2 separate regions of the Homo sapiens genome follow, and region 2 is linked to region 1. A link means that fine-mapping ties the variant in region 1 to the expression of a gene that starts in the linked region. Tissue or cell type: left ventricle. Region 1 holds a variant in brackets; the other region holds the start of a gene. All regions are shown on one strand. Distances are from middle to middle.

Region 1 (2,761 bases):
AGGTAATGAACCCATGGTGAGACCCAGATCTTTGGGAATTGAACTAATTCAGGATCAGCCAGGCCTAGAACAGATCCAAGCCTTCTCTTTACTGGCCCGGTTCCATTTCCCTTCATCCATTCCAAGCCAACCAACATTCCTGTGGTTATTCCAGAATTGAGGGCTCACCCTGGGATATGGAAGAGCTTCTCCATCACCTTCACGGCAATATCACAAGTCAGGGTTAAGAGGGAATGAGAGAAACCAAGCCAAACCAGAATTGATTGTAAATGTCACTGGAACTCATAAACAGTTAGATTCTTAACTCTGGTCAATGTCTCTTCTCTGGAGAAAAGAAAATCGTCCCTCTATTGTCCACTGGGTGAGGGATGAAAATTTTACATGTTGTTGTACATAAACATAGGCTTCTCTCTTTGACTTTTTTAAAAATCAGGCTGACCTTCATCTGTCAAGCTAGATACAGGTTATAAGGTAGTCACTACTTATGGAATATGAGTTCTTATTCAATTTTTCCAGACTTTAGTTTCATATATGAAAAATGGATTTAATAATGCCTAATTTGCAAGATAATTGTGAGGTTGGTAGATAATTGTAGAAAGTAGTACAGTAGCTGGTTCATAGTTAGCAAGCCTGATCATTTCTCTTACTATTATATTAGTATCATTGTGTTCAACTTTTATCTCTTCCTGAGTTTTGCTCATTCTATTACTATCATATCTTTGAATCATAATTCAAATGCATTATTACTGGCTGCTGGCATTTGATATAAAGTTTAAAATATCTAGAATGATTCTGTTAAATTACAATTTTTTTTCATCAAGTTAAATCAAATCTACTTTTTCATACTAGACCCAGAGGGTATGTAAAATTTAATTTGGGCTCCCTGAAATTTAAAGAAAAATCCAATGGGTATGCAATGACACTTCGAGGGGAAAATATCACACAAACTAGGATATTTTTCTTTGTGACAAAAAAAAACAAAAAACAAAACACAGCAACACCAGTTTTAGTGTTGAACCAAATAAAACATGAGAATTCATTAGTCTTTTAAAAAACATATTCTGCCATCAGAAGGTTTGTCTTTTTTATTGCGTAAAGCACCCAGGTCTTCAGGGTGCTTTCCTCTGGTTGGGGGCTGCATTCATAGAGCACAGCTGCATCTCTGGGGGTAGCCAGCAGGCCACAGCTAGCGCTGTGATTTCTCCTGTGTGGCTGAGCCTCAAGGCGTGGCAGGAAGACTTGCATCTGCCCAGTGTGACACACAGCTCCAGTGACAGCAGCGGACACACTGTAATTACCTTTGCTTAGGTGGCTCGCTTACCGGGGCTAATGGAGCGGCACAGATTACACTGACATCCTGAGGTCCA[A/G]CTGAGGGTTAGTGTGGTCTGTGTGGACTATTATGTACAGGAAGCAGCAGTGAGAGAGAAAAAAGGAAGAGGTTAGAGGATCAGAAACATGTTGGCTTTGAAGAGGGATTAAGGAATAGAAAAGTAGAAAATTAAATGGGGGGAATAAGGGAAACTTTGTTTTTAATGCTAGAGAATTTCCAGAGAATTTTTATATCCAAGAGTTGTGAGTATCAAGAGTCCCATAGAATAGCCAAAGAAAATACTTTATATGGAATCATACTTCAACTACAGTAGGGGATATTGTTATTTAAATAAAACCCTAAGTAATTATTTTCATTTAAGTAGAGCAGAATAGCCTTTTTCATAGGTGTATTCTTATCCCCAAACTCATTGAGATATACACACTAAAGATGTATACACAGCTTTTCATATGTCAATCATGCCTTGATAATTTTTTCAGAGAAGAGTTTGCAACATGCCTCCAGATACTGGTCAATTTTCCAGGCTTATCCTGGATCATTAAAGTTGAATGCCAGAGGCCTGGGTGGGAAGCCCTGCCTCATTGTTATGGAGGACCCACAAGGCCCTACAAAGAATTCTGGGCTATAACTAGGAAGTCGATGTTTTCTCAGGTTTTTCTCTTCTATATTCCAGTTCATAGTCATTAAGGAGTAAAATAAAATAAAAAATATTTTGATAAGTATTTTTAATATAATTATTTTCCTTTGTAACCCTACTTATTTTGTTTTTTGGGGCTTTTATTTATTTATTTTTTGGTTTTTAAAAAATTTTTACTCTTTTTTTGTGATAGAGGCTCACTCTATCATCCAGGCTGGAGTTCAGCTCACTGCACCCTTGACATTCTGGGCTCAAGGGATTCTCCTGCCTCAGCCTCCTGAGTAGCTGGGACCACAGGTGCACACCACCACACTCAGCTTATTAAAAAAAAAAAAAATTGTAGAGCCAGGGTCTTACTACATTGCCCAGGCTGGTCTTGAGCTCCTGGATTCCAGCTACCCTCCTGCCTTGGCTTCCCAAAGGGCTAGCATATTTTGGTTTATGCATTTAAAAACAAGGGAGTCCATTTGTATTATCACATAGCCAAAAGAGTCCATGGAACATAAATGATTAAGAATCTTGCTTTAGAGTCTGACATTCAACTATAGCCATCAGTAAAGGGTGCTTATAATTTATGCGAGAAGGGTTAATATTAGGAAAGGGAAGGTAAAAAACACATACCACAAAGAAGAAGCAACAAAATGTAAAAACACATTCCTTAAACCAGTGGCTAAAGAACCTTCCTGACCTTTCCAGCTCTTTGTTCTGGCCCCCGAAAGCTATCACAGTCCTGATGGCCCCCAGAGCCTCTTCTGCCACGGCGCCTGCTTTTGCATAAGCAGCTAGTTCTTTGT
Region 2 (2,761 bases), 27 kb after region 1:
CAGTCAATCCCTGCCTAAACAGCCAGCTGATGAAAACCATATTTTTCTATTGCGTGTGTAAGTACTTCCATTGGAAGTAACACCATCTATCACTTTTTCAATTCTACATGGCAAAACTAAATTTTCTATGAAAAAATACAATGGTGCTTAGAAGAAATACAGCAAGGTTACTGCACAACCACATTAACAGGCTAAAATAATGCTTCAGTTTAAGCATCAGGTAGGCATGTTTTCAGTTAGCTAATCAAGCCCCTAGCAGCTTGAGGACAAACTACAGAGACTGATAAATTTGTCCCTCTGGGTGATCACTTGACACAGGTCAATTTTTTCTGGGTAGCCTGGTATGAACTCAGAGACCGTAATAGCCTCATAAACTATTTCAGGCTAAAGGCGAAAATGATTCACTATTCCCACAGTGAAAGAGGAAACAAAGACACACGCCATTGACTGGGAACTTCTGCCCCGCTCATAAAGCCTGTGAAGTGAGTTTAACAAGGGCCAGGGGAACCGAGAAAGACATGAAGGCAAAGGAAGCGCTGCTTCCCCCTACCACTTGAACAAAACTGATTCGGATGTACAGAAGTTCCCCCTCCCCACCTATCCTCCCAGAAAGGAGAAATACAAATAAGCCTGGCGATGAGAGGAGGGGGAGGGGTAAGACAAGGAGGAAGAGACATAACAGGGGATGGGCAGGAGGGGAGGGAGTTTTTGCTTCACTGCCCTTGTTCAAAAAGCACAGCCATCAACAGCAGATGTCTGACACCCTTTAAGTCTGAACAATCAGATGATGTATATGAAAGTCATTTGTAAAAGTTTCAAGAGTTACGTAATACAATGAATGTTATACAATGCAGATATTCATTGAATCCCCCCTGCACAAAGGGAAGGGAGCACTTTTCAAGACAGCCTTTTCTTCCTGAATCTGTTCCAAAAGGAGCCTCAGTGACATTCTTTGAGGCCACACAACACGTTTGCTCCAAGGTCAGAACCGGATGCAAGACCCTTCAAAGAAGCCTCCAAAACAAAGGTCTTCAAAGGCATCAACCGATTTTTACAACTTCTTTCCAAGGGTGAACTTAGTCCTGCTGATTGGCGTGTAACGGAAAAGCCAGTGGCTGCTGGGGATGTACCTGCTGATGCCCAGTTCAAAGTCGCCCTCCGCGCTCGTGGGGCGCCAGGCTGTTCCGTTCTTTGCCGCCTCAAGATCCATCTCAGCCTGAGGAGAAACCACAGCCTCAGAACCAAGTACACCCTCTCCGGCGGCCCGGCGCACGAGTCGCGGGGCCCGGGGGCACTGGGTGGAGGTCCGGCCACTCCCGCCCCGCGCCCCACGTCCCGGGTCTCCCTTCGAGGCCAGACGCGCCCGGACCTCTCTCACCTCGAACCTCGCGCGTGTCTGGCAGGGCCTCTGGACGCGCGGGCGCTGCAGCAGAGGGGCCTGGACTTTGCTCGCCGCGGCCTCGCCCCCGCCCCCGCCCCCGCCCCCCACGCGCGTCCGGCCCGGGAAACGCCTACCGTTGCAGCCAGGGCGAGGGCCGCGGCCCGCGAGAGCAGCTCCCGCCGCCCGCCCAGCTCTCTCCCCAGGCTAGGCGCGGGCCAGGGGCGCAGCCTGCCGCTCTTGCCGCCGGGGCGCCCGGCTGGGGCCGCCGCCCACCCTGGCGACCCGCCAGAACCAGCCCGGTCGCAGGATAAGACCGAGATCAGGCTGGAGCCTCGGGTGCCGAGAAAGCCTCGCCTGATGGGCCACCCAAGCCCCTGCAGATGACTGTCACACCCCATGGGCGCTCAGTTTTGTTTTTAAACCCATAGGGGAGACAGTTTCCGGACGCCCAACAATCACAGGGCGGCCCAGGACCGAGAGAGAGCAATAGACTCGCCTCTTGCTTCCGCATCCCCAGTTCTGGTCCAGGTGGCACTGAACCCAATTATCTCCAAGGACGGCGAGAGTCAGCCAGGGCCGGCAGGAACCATCACATTATGCTCCTTGGGGAGGAGGAACGCTGTTGGTGCCCTCTTAGCACTTAAGAGACACAGAGTTTTAGGGCTAGAGGGGTCTTCAGCGATCATCTAATTAAAACCCCGTATGTTTAACATATGAAGAAACGGATGCCCAGAGAGGTGAAGTCCTGCCTGAGGCTGCATCGGTGGAACCAGAGTCTAGGGGAAGCCTCCTGAGTCCCAGTCCAGTGCCCTGGCTCACTGCTCTCATCTAAGACTTCTGTCTGTATTGAATTGTCTCTGCTCCTACCACCTATTTGAGTATGACTTTCTTCTTTCTGATTAATTCCTCCACACTCTTCCCAAAAGGAAGTGTCTAAAACGGGGAGCCATAAGTTTCATGGCTTTGAAACCGGAGACTTTCAAACTCAGAGCTTCACATCTTATTAACTATGTGACTTTGGACACTGTGCTCATTTCTCTAGGCCTGTTTCCTTATATGTAAAATGAGGATAAAAACATCTCCCTTATCAGGTTATTGCGAGGAATAAATGAGTTGAGGATAAGGGAATTAAGTACTAGGTAAAAGCACCTAGTACTATGCCTAAAACATAGTAGGTGAGCAACAAATACAACTTTCCTTCCTTCTGATCAGGTAGCAGGATGACCAGTGGGTCCTTGCACCTGCTATGTCCTGTTAACACAATTGTTAGCCCAAGGCTTGTCTGAGTTCTCAGAGAACCTTAAAGCAGAGCATGGTATAAGTAGAGATGCTGGGTGGACCCTGGTGTGAATCTCACCTTTCCCATGTACCAGCTGTCTG

Alleles and levels. Positions count from the first base shown, and alleles are read on the strand shown. Sizes are in standard deviations (SD) of each study's normalised expression.
For the expression in left ventricle of the gene that starts at base 1,425 in region 2, allele A in region 1 goes with a higher level than allele G (small effect, 0.37 SD a copy in GTEx).

Evidence for each region. PIP is the estimated chance that this variant, and not a neighbour inherited with it, causes the effect.
Region 2: ABCB4 starts here. The variant in region 1 is fine-mapped to the expression of ABCB4 in left ventricle (GTEx, PIP 0.96). The same link has a PIP of 0.9 or more in atrial appendage and testis.

Annotation. Positions count from the first base shown.
Region 1 is chr7:87,447,313-87,450,073 of GRCh38, forward strand. It overlaps ABCB4 (ATP binding cassette subfamily B member 4), which reads right to left. Exons shown (of 28, transcript NM_000443.4): 8 at 2,656-2,761. Among named protein-coding and RNA genes, the nearest start is that of ABCB4, 27 kb to the right of the region's middle. The variant A/G (reference allele first, on the strand shown) is at 1,368.
Region 2 is chr7:87,474,256-87,477,016 of GRCh38, forward strand. It overlaps ABCB4 (ATP binding cassette subfamily B member 4), which reads right to left and starts at 1,425. Exons shown (of 28, transcript NM_000443.4): 1 at 1,379-1,425; 2 at 1,131-1,216. The coding sequence starts at 1,210. RefSeq lists an enhancer at 612-681 and silencers at 1,152-1,291, 1,302-1,501, 1,552-1,801.